Regions from separate parts of the Homo sapiens genome. Here region 2 is linked to region 1. Evidence: fine-mapped expression QTL. Tissue or cell type: neutrophils. Region 1 holds a variant in brackets; the other region holds the start of a gene. All regions are shown on one strand. Distances are between the middles of the regions.

The links. PIP is the estimated chance that this variant, and not a neighbour inherited with it, causes the effect.
Region 2: ZNF333 starts here. The variant in region 1 is fine-mapped to the expression of ZNF333 in neutrophils (BLUEPRINT, PIP 0.95).

What each region holds. Positions count from the first base shown.
Region 1 is chr19:14,777,208-14,782,819 of GRCh38, forward strand. It overlaps ADGRE2 (adhesion G protein-coupled receptor E2), which reads right to left and starts at 1,353. Exons shown (of 21, transcript NM_013447.4): 1 at 1,050-1,353. The variant G/A (reference allele first, on the strand shown) is at 2,457.
Region 2 is chr19:14,687,230-14,692,841 of GRCh38, forward strand. It overlaps ZNF333 (zinc finger protein 333), which reads left to right and starts at 2,819. Exons shown (of 12, transcript NM_032433.4): 1 at 2,819-2,921. RefSeq lists silencers at 2,413-2,462, 2,793-3,162.

The DNA.
Region 1 (5,612 bases):
GGGCCTTGTCAGAAATAGCTCTGGGCTCCCACTTTGGTAGGGCTCACCCTGTGCCCAGAGCTTTGGCATGCCAGAGTTGGCAGAGCCTGCGTCCCAGCTGGCAGTATCTTCCCCTGCTGTTTTCCAGATGAGGAAACTGAGGCCAGGTACAGAGGCTCACGCCTGTGATCCCAGCACTCTGGGAGGGCGAGGCAGGAGGATCGCTTGAGCTCAGGAGTTTGAGACCAGCCTGGGCAACATGGCGAAGCTCGGTTTCTTTCTTTCTTTTTAAATTAATTAATTAATTAATTAATTAAATTTTTTAGACTTTAAGTTCTAGGGTACATGTGCACAACGAGCAGGTTTGATACATAGGCATACATGTGCCATGTTGGCTTGCTGCACCTATCAACTCGTCATTTACATTAGGTATTTCTCCTAATGCAATCCCTCCCCCAGGCCCCCACCCCCCGACAGGCCCCAGTGTGTGATGTTTCCCGCCCTGTGTCCAGGTGTTCTCATTGCTCAGTTCCCACCTATGAGTGAGAACATGTGGTGTTTGGTTTTCTGTTTCTGTGTTAGTTTGCTGAGAATGATGGTTTTCAGCTTCATCTGTGTCCCTGCAAAGGACATGAACTCATCCTTTTTTATAGCTGCATAGTATTCCCTGGTGTATATGTGCCACACTTTCTTAATCCAGTCTATCATTGATGGACATTTGGGTTGATTCCAGGTCTTTGCTATTGTGAATAGTACCGCAATAAACATACATGTGCATATGTCTTTATAGTAGCATGATTTATAATCCTTTGGGTATATACCCAGCAATGGGATCGCTGAGTCAAATGGTATTTCTAGTTCTGGATCCTTGAGAAATCACCACACTATCTTCCACAATGGTTGAACTAATTTACATTCCCACCAACAGTGTAAAAGCGTTCCTATTTCTCCACACCTGTGATCCCAGCACTCTGGGAGGCCGAGGCAGGAGGATCGCTTGAGCTCAGGAGTTTGAGACCAGCCTGGGCAACATGGCAAAGCTCTGTTTCTTCAAAAAGAAAAAAAATTACCTGGGCTTGGTGGCAGACGTCTGTGGTCCCAGCTGCTACTACTCAGGAGGCTGAGGCAGGAAGAATCACCCGAGCTGGGGAGTTTGAGGCTGCGGTGAGCTAAGATGGTGCCACTGCACTCCAGCTTGGGTGATAGAGTGAGACCCTGTGTCAAAAACAAAAAGAAAGAAAGAAAACTGAGGCATTACAGTGTCCACATAAAAGCCCAGGGAGGGAGAAGGGGCCCTCTTCCGATGCCAGGCAGGTGCCAAGAAGAGAAGCTTCACCGCACAGAGCAGACCCCCCGGATCTTTCTGGTCTTTCTAAGCCAGTTTCCTCCTGTGGGAAACTTATATTTCAGAGGCCCCTGGGCACTTCGTTAATCAACAGAGAATCATGTGATAGGAGGGTTCTTTCCTTTCTGGATAAATCATATGATTAGCTTGTCTCTTGAGGTACGTAATCATTTTTTAAAACGCTATATATATTTTTAAGAGATCTTACTCTGTCACCCAGGCTGGAGTGCAGGGTCACCATCACAGCTCACTGCAGCCTCAAACTTCAGGGCTCAAGGGATCCTCCTGCCTCAGCCTCCTGAGGAGCTGGGACTACAGCTGTGCACCATCACGTCTGGCTAGTTTTCTCCTTAAGTGTTTTTTTTTTTTGTAGAGACGAGATCTCGCTATCCTGCCAAGAAAATGCTATTATTTATGGAGCACTTAATTTGTACCAGGTCTGGTCCTAAGTGCTTTTTTTTTTTAATCTATATTAACTCATTTACTCCTTAAAACATCTGCAATGATGTTGTCATTCCCATTTGACAGAGGAGGAAACTGAGGCACAAGTGACTCACCCAGCTGAGACTCAGATCCACAGGCCGGCAGCCCAGCCCTGGAGTCCCTGCGATGAGCCCAGGGGAAAGTCTCCACTGGGCACTAACATGTCTTTAGCGCCTCCGTGACCCTGAGGCTTAGCAGGTGTCTGTATCCAGCCAGAATTCAAGGACTTGGTTTTGTGTTCCTCATATTTATATTTATTTTTAGGTTTCCCTACTATCTGGGGCAATGAGGAGGGTTTTTCAGTGAGGATGCCGAAATCAAGTCTCCTTGTTACATGAGTAAATTCAAGATGCAGAAGTGATGAATGCTAAGGAAAATATAGTTCAGTTGTTCAAAGGGGGAGATTGCAGCGATGGAGAAAAAAGTCACTAATGACTGAAGTCAGAGAACTATTGTCCTGGGAATAATCAAACATCCACAGTCCTAGAATTTACCCCTTCCTGTCCCGGGCTCCTGTGGGGGTGGCCTGGGCTGTGGGGGAGGGGAGTGAACACCAGCAGAAGCTGGAAGGAGAGAGGGCCAGACCAGGTCTGGAGGGATTTTGCCTTTTTTTTCTCAGAAAGCCAGAAACTCCAGCTAGAACCCCAGG[G/A]CTCAACGTCCCTTCTCTGCAGATCAGACGGGCAGGTCAGACAGCTGGCGTCTGCAGAATCTCAGGGAGGTAGTGGCACTTCCTGATGCCAGGGATTGTCCCTACACCCCTTCATGGTGATCATCGACTCTTCTTAATTTAATTTTATTTTACTGTATTTTAGAGACAGACTCTGGTGTTGCCCAGGTTGGAGTACAGTGGCGCCATCTCGACTCACTGCAACCTCCGCCTCCCGGGTTCAAGCGATTCTCCTGCCTCAGCCTCCAGAGTAGCTCGGACTACAGGTGCCCACCACCACACCTGGCTAATTTTTGTATTTTTATTTTATTTTATTTATTTGTTCATTCATTTATTTATTTTGAGACAGAGTCTCGCTCTGTCACCCAGGCTGGAGTGTGGTGATGTGATCTCAGCTCACAGCAACCTCTGCCTCCTGGGTTCAAGAGATTCTCCTGCCTCAGCCTCCCAAGTATCTGGAATTACAGGTGCAAGCCACCACGCCTGGCTAATTTTTGTATTTCTAGCAGAGATGGAGTTTCGCTATGTTGGTCAGGCTGGTCTCGAACTTCTGGCCTCAAGTGATCTGCCTGCCTTGGCATCCCAAAAGTGCTGGGATTACAGGCGTGAACCACAATGCCCGGCCTGAAACATTCTTTTTAAATTTTTATTTTATTATTATTATTATTATTTATTATTACTTTTTTCTGAGACGAAGTCTTGCTCTGTCACCCAAGCCGGAGTGCAGTGGTGCTATCTCGTCTCACTGCAATCTCTGCCTCCCGGGTTCAAGCAATTCTCCTGCCTCAGCCTCCCGAGTAGCTGGGATTATAGGCACCTGCCATCGCATCTAGATAATTTTTGTATTTTTAGTGGAGACAGGGTTTCACCATGTTGGCCAGGCTGGTCTCGAACTCCTGTCCTCAAATGATCCACGCGCCTCAGCCTCCCAAAGCGTTGGGATTACAGGCGTGAGTCACCATTCCTGGCGGCTTTCTTGAGTCTCTCCAATACTTCTCACCATCTCCCTTCTTCCCTAGCAACCATCTGCCCTCGAGCCGCATTAGGCTGTCAGCCCCCTGAGTGACTTTTGTCTTTTTCTCTGCAGAGCACCAGCACAGAGCCTGTGCTGAGTGGGGCCCTATATGGTAAACCATGCAAATTAGTAGTACTCCTGCCACTCCACTCCGCTGCCGCCCAGCTAAAGGAAGCCTCCTTCAGCCTCGCTGATCTGGTCCCTGCCGGGGTGTCTGCCTATGTTTCTCCGCCTTCTCTTTGTCCAGAAGTCTCAGTCCTGCTGACCTATTTTGCAGCTTCTGGACAACCTCTGCAATGATGGGGGGTGCGAACATGGTCCTCATTTGTCAAAAGGGGAACTGGAACCTGGGGGTTTGGGGCCCCTGGCCCCAGGTTGCTCAGCTAAGAAGTAACCCAAGATTACCTGTAATCCCAGCTGCTTGGGAGGCTGAAGCAGGAGAATTGCTTGAGCCCAGGAGATGTAGGTTGCAGTGAGCTGAGATCGCGTTATTGCACTCCAGCCTGGGCGATAGAGCCAGACTCCGTTTCAAAAAAAAAAAAAAAAAAAAAAGAAGCAACCCAAGATTATCCAACCAACAATAATAATGGTATTATTAATTATATTAGTATAATTTATTGTTATTATTTTAGAGACAGGGTCTCTGTTGCCCACGCTGGAGCACAGTGGCGGTGGCACAATTATGGCTTCAGGCAACCTGCACGTCCTGGGCTTATGTGATCCTCCTGCCTCAGCCTACCAAGTAGCTGGGACTACAGGCATATGTTGCCATGCCTGGCTAACTTTTCACTTTTTTTGTGTGTGTGTGAGGGGGACGGAATCTTGCCCTGTTACCCAGGCTAGAGTGCAGTGGCGAGATCTCGGCTCACTGCAACCTCCGCCTCCCAGCTTCAAGCAATTCTCCTGCCTCAGCCTCCCTAGAAGCTGGGATTACAGGCACACACCACCACGCCCAGCTAATTTTTTAGTAGAGACGGGGTTTCACCATGTTGGCCAGGCTGGTCTCGATCTCCTGACCCTCAAGTGATCCGCCCACCTCAGCCTCCCAAAATGCTGGGGTTACAGGTGCATGCCACCATGCCTAGCCACACTCCTTTTTTAAATTTAAAAACTGAGTGAAGTCAGGAGAAAAAAATCTTAAATTGCAGCATGACAGATTCCATACTAGAATCTTGAAAAAGTCTCCAAAGCCCCATAGGAAAAAGCCACCTTGCAAAAAAGCTGAGATACAAAGATAATAAAAGATTTGGTTTCAGGATACAAACATATGCAAGAAGACTTTAAAAAATAATCAAGGCTGCCGGGCGCGGTGGCTCATGCCTGTAATCCCAGAGAGGCCGAGGTGGGCAGATCACCTGAGGTCAGGAGTTCAAGACCAGCCTGGCCAACATGGTGAAACCCCGTCTGTACTAAAAGTACAAAAATTAGCCGGGTATGGTGGTGGGTGCCTGTAATCCCAGCTACTTGGGAGGCTGAAGCAAGAGAATCACTTGAACCCGGGAGGCAGAGGCTGCAGTGAGCTGAGATTGCGCCACTGCACTCCAGCCTGGGAGACAAGAGTGAGACTCCGTCTAAATAAAATAAAATAAAATAAAAATACATAAATATAAATAAATAAATAAAAATAAACAAGGCTGGGCCGGGCGCAGTGGTTCATGCTCGTAATCCCAGCTACTTGGGGATGCTGAGACGGGAGGATTGCTTGAGCCCAGGAGTTCGAGACCATCCTGGGCAACATAATGAGACCTCCATCTCTACAATAAAAATAAAAAATTCGCCAGGTGTGGTGACTCGCACCTGTGGTCCCAGCTACTCAGGAGGCTGAAGTGGGAGGATGGCTTGAGCCCAGGAATTCGAGGTGGCAGTGAGCTGTGATCATACCACTGCACTCCAGCCTGGGTGACAGAGCAAGACCCTGTCTCAAAAATAAATAAAATAAAAAAATAAGTAACTGAGCAAAGGAATAAGGTGCAAAGAATATTCAGAGTGGTGGTAATCAGCAAGATAAAGATGGGAGCATGGGAACAAGGTCATGTCTCAGTTCTTGGTGATGAGGGAGGCTCATGGGTATGCCTTCCTTCCCTTTTATTTTTTAATTTACATATTTTTTGCAAAGCAAAGTT
Region 2 (5,612 bases), 90 kb before region 1:
GAACTAACCTAAATGCCCATCAATAGCAGGCGATATAAAGAAAATGTACATGCACACCATAGAACACTATGCAGATGTAAAAAAGAATCAGCTCATGTTATTTGCAGGGACATGGATGCACTGGAGGCCATTATCCTTAGCAAACTAACACAGGAACAGCAGACCAAATACTGGATGTTCTCACTTCTTTTTTTTTGAAACGGAGTCTAGCTCTATTGCCCAGGCTGGATTGCAATGGTGCGATCTCGGCTCACTGCAACATCTGCTTCCCAGGTTCAAGTGATTCTCCTGCATCACCCTCCCGGGTAGCTGGGATTACAGGCGCCTGCCATCATGCCCGGCTAATTTTTGTATTTTTAATAGAGACGGGGTTTCACCATGTTGGCCAGGCTGGTCTTGAACTCCTGACCTCAGGTGATCCACCTGCCTCAGCCTCCCAAAGTGCTGGGATTACAGGCGTGAGCCACCATGCTTGGCCACTGACTCCTTTCTTACTCCTGGCTTTGTTGAGTTATAGTTGACAAATAAAAATTGTATATATTTAAGGTGTACAACTTGATGTTTTGATATACATACAGTGAAATAATGAAGCAATTAGCACATCCATCGCCTCACATATTTGCTTTTTTTTTTTTGGTGGTAAGAACACGTAAGACCTACCCTCTTAGCACATTTCAAGTACATAATATGTTCCTGTTAACTACAGTCACCATGCTGTACATTAGATCTCCAAAACTTATTTATCTGAAATAACTGAACCTTTGTACATTTTGTTTTTTAAATGATACATTTCTTTTATTTTTATTTTTAGAGACAGTGTCTTGCTATGTGGCCCAGGCTGGTCATCTGGAACTCCTGGACTCAAGCGATCCTCCTGCCTTGGCCTCCCAAAGTGTGCTGTGATTACATGCATGAGCCACCCCGCCCGGCCCAACTTCTTTGTAAGAACATTTAGCTTAAAACACAGATAAATTGTACTGCATAAAGGTATTTTCTTTCTTTATATCCTTATTCTATAAGCTATTTTTCATTTTTTTTTTTGAGATGGAGTTTTGCTCTTGTTGCACAGGCTGGAGTGCAATGGCAAGACCTTGGGTCACTGCACCCTCCACCTCCTGGGTTCAAGCAATTCTCCTGCCTCAGCCTCCCGAATAGCTGGGATTACAGGCGCATGCCACCATGCCCAGCTAATTTTTGTATTACTAGTAGAGACTGGGGGTTTCATCATGTTGGCCAGGCTGGTCTCGAACTCCTGACCTCAAGTGATCCACCAGCGTCGGCCTCCAAAGTCTTGGGATTGCAGGCGTAAGCCACCGCGCCCGGTCTTTTCATATTTTTAAAACCTTTTTAAATGTGAGTAATGTGTTGCACTGCAACATTGTGACAGTTACAACATCACTAGGTGATAAGAAATTTTCAGCTCCATTATAACCTTATGGGATCACAACTGTGTATGTGTTTCGTGGTTGACCAAAACCTTGTTATGTGGTGCATGACTGCACATGTGCTTGATATATAAAGAATACCAGGGAACTAGTGACAGTGGTTGTTTCAGGGGAGGAAAATTTAGGAATAGAGTGAGCCTCCCGTTTGAACTTTTCCCATAGGTATGTACTATGTATACTACATAATAAATAGTTTTTAAAAAGTCAGATCTATGTCTTAGATTCACACATCTTATTTTTAGTGAGAAGGGCAAGCTGTAGAAGAAACAAAAATACATCGTCCTATTTTTAGAATAAAGACAGTTAGTTGACCCGTGAACACCAAGGGTTTGAACTGTGGCTATCCCCTTATAGGTAGATTTTTTTCTACCTTTGTCCTCCTTGGGACAGCAAGACAAACCCCTCCCTTTCCTCAGCCTACTCAGGGTGAAGCTGACGATGAAGACGTTTATTTATGATCTTTACGATCACTTCCACGTAACGAAGAGTAAATATATTTTCTCTTCTTCATGATTTTCTTAATAACACTTTCTTTTCTCTGAGCTTAGTTTATTTTAAGAATATGGCATATAATATACAAAATATGTGTTAACTAACTTTATGTTATTGGTAAAGCTTCTGGTTAACAGTAGTCTATTAGTAGGTAGGTTTTGGGGGAGTCAAAAGAAGTGAATTTTCCACTGCACAGGGTGGCGCCCCAACTCCCGTTGCCTAAGGGTCAGCCGTATAAAAATATACAAAAACAATCTTAAGTATGGGTATATTTTTGTAGGGGATTGGATTAAGCCCATGGATAAAGGTGGAAGGGGTTGGGGAAAAGGAAGGAGAAAAGGGTAAGTTAAATATTGAGCATCCCTAAAGAGACCCGGGGAGGGGTCGGGTGTGCCCCTCTCAACCCTTGAAGCCCAGGTCCCCTCATCCCGCCTTCCGAATGCAAGTTCAGCTCCCATTCCCACCCCAAGCACAAGCCCCGCCCCATTTTTGCCCCTGAGGCGCACGACCCGCCCCTACTACCACCCTGCAAACCAAGGCCCCGCCCACTCCGCCATTGGGGTGCAAGCCCCGCCCATCAGCCATCGGAGGGCAAGCCACACTCCACCCCGCCCCCGCGCACAGGCCCCGCCCCACTTTTGCCCCGGGACCTAAGCCCCACCCCTATCCCTGTCTCTCGGACATAGGCTCCGCCCCCAGCACCACCCTCCATGCTCTGTGGGACCCCACTCCAGAGCCTAACCTCATCCCCCGGGTAAGAATACTAGAATTTCTCCTTGGAGGCTAAAGAAGACGTTAGTTTCTCTGCCGCCGCCTAAGGCTACCCTGGCCACAACAGCCTGAGCCACAGCCACTTCCGTTCCCGGCGGCCCCGAGACCGGAAGCGGAAGTGCGCGCGGCGGCGGCCGACGGCGGCTGAGCTGTGCTGCGCGGCGCGGCGCGGTGCGGCACGGCACGGTGGGAGTGTCTCCGGCTGGCTTGCAGGTGTGGCCCGGCCCCTCGGGAGGGCGGGGAGGGCGGGGAGGGCTCGGCTGGCGCGGGGAGGGACTGGAGGGCCTAGAACAGCTCCGCCTGTGTGAGGGGTTTCCTCCCTGCGATCAGCCGGTGGCCGGCGTGAGGCCCACACAGTCAGGGCCTCGCATCTGGGCGCCCGCCGCCCGGTCTCTCGCTCTCAGGTACCCCCCGTCCGGGCAGACAGGGCTGTCATCCTGTCAAAAGGGAAATCCCAAACAGTCCAGGTCCCACAGCTCAGAAATGTGGTGACACCGGCCCCAGCTCTCACCTGTCCTTCCCAATTTTTAGGGAAAGTGCATAAAGACGGCCCTACCTTGCCTACAGTATGCAAGATAACTGCGAATTAGTAATTCACGTTTTATTTGATATGATACTTAATATTATCTAGCTTTGCAACTGGAAAGTGAGGTCTGGGTCCACATGTGCAAACTGGTTTAATTGATTGGCCAAATTTACTTAAAAAATTGAATGCATCCTCCATTAAGGAATGAATTAGATGACGAGAGATTTCTTTTGGAGACTGACAATTTGAAGTCTTTTAGCTTAATATCTGTTAGCTTGGCTTTGCATCTCTTCCTTTTCCATAACTTTTTCTTTCTTCTTTTTTTTCTTTCTCATAAGAAAGCTTTTGGCCAGGCTTGGTGGCTCACTCCTATAATCCCAGCACTTTGGGAGGCCGAGGCGGGTGGATCACCTGAGGTCAGGAGTTTGAGACCAGCCTGGCCAACATGGTGAAACCCTGTCTTTACTAAAAATACACAAATTAGCCGAGCGTAGTGGTGGGCGCCTGTAATCCCAACTACTCGGGAGGCTGAGGCAGGAGAATCGCTTGAACCCCAGAGGCGGAGGTTGCAGTGAGCTGAGATTGTGCCACTGCACTCCAGCCTGGGTGACAGAGCAAGACTCCATCTCAAAAACAAAAACAACAACAAAAGGAGGAGTTCTTAATTTTTTTTGTTTTTGTTTTTCTTTATTTTCTATGTTTGAGACGACTTTTACTTCTGCTGTGGGCATCAAGTTTCTCACTGTTAGGTTAAGAAAAGCCGTTTCTCAGTTATTTCACAAATATTATTATCAAGAAAACCTAAGACTGTTATTCAGATCTTTTCAAGTTGGCTCCAGTCCTTCCCCCAAGCATGTGAATCACAGAGCTTCAAAACTAATGGAACTTCAGGGAAAAGACGATATAAACTTTGTTAATACTGGAAATTCAAATTGAGTTGGCCATAAGTGGGATGTCTTTTTTAATAATGGGGTTAAAGCTCGTGTCTACTGAGAAATCAGGAAAAAATTAACTCCAGAGGAAAATCATGCATCAGATTTCAGTTTTACGAGTGAGGTGTTTGTTTCCACAAAGAATATATGCGCTTGCCTTGCCTTTTTAAAAAGAATTAATATTGTTTCTTAAAGGTACCTGAAACTTGTGTGATTATGTCTTATGAAAGACAGGCACTTTAAGTTATTCTTATATTTGATTTTTATGGTGTCATATTGTCTTTTTTTTTTTTTTTTTTGAGACAGAGTCTCACTTCATCACCCAGGCTGGAGTGCAGTGGCACAATCTCGGCTCACTGCAGCTTCTGCCTCCTGGGTTCAAGCAATTCTCGTGCCTCAGCTTCCCAGGCAGCTGTGATTATAGGCGCCCGCCACCATGCCCGGCTAATTTTTGTATTTTTAGTAGAGACGGGGTTTCACCATGTTGGCCAGGCTGGTCTGGAACTCCTGACCTCAGGTGATCCACCCGCCTCGGCCTCCCAAAGTGCTGGGATTATAGGCGTGAGCAACCATACCTGGCCTCATACTGTGTTTTGTGTGTGCGTGGGCATATTCCTTCTTAGGCTAGCTATACTGAGTCATTCTTGAGGAGTGTTGATTATTTGGCATATTTTCACTGGGGTGCCCTCAATGAATTGGACCCTGTACATGGGGAAACAGTGGGACTGAAATAGTTACAGTGCTTGCCCCTGTGGAGGCTTTATTCTAGCTAATAATATTGGTAAATTAATAGTGCCAAAGGCAATATGAGAACGTGGAACAGGAGAACTTGGGGAGGATGTCAGGAAACACATCTGAAAAGGAACAAATGTTTGAACCTTCAAGATGAGTTGTACGTAGCTAAACAAGGGGTCTAGCTGTGGAGTGGGGTAGCGGAGGAAACTTGAGAGAACATTCCAGATGTACAGTCTTTCAGGCAGTACGAAGCCTGCTGTGTTCCAGGAGCTGAGAACAGGTAGAGAAAGCTAAAGTAGAGAAAATAAAGTACTGAATGGATGAGCCAGGTGAGAGAGGGAGGCAGGTCCCTGAAGATCATGGTTAGCATTGGATCTTCTTTTTATTTATTTTTTTTCTTTCAGACAGAGTCTTGCTCTGTCACCCAGGCTGGAGTGCAGTGTGGGATCTGGGCTCACTGCAGCCTCCACCTCCCGGGTTCCAGCGATTTTCTGGCCTCAGCTTCCTGAGTAGCTGGGATTACAGGTGTGTGCCACCATGCCCAGCTAATTTTTGTATTTTAAGTAGAGATGGGGTTTCACCATGTTGGCCAGGCTGGTCTTGAACTCCTGACCCCAAGTGATCCACCTGCCTCGGCCTTCCAAAGTGCTGGGATTATAGGCATGAGCCACCGTGCTTGACCTGGACCTTATTCTTTTTTTTTTTTTCTTG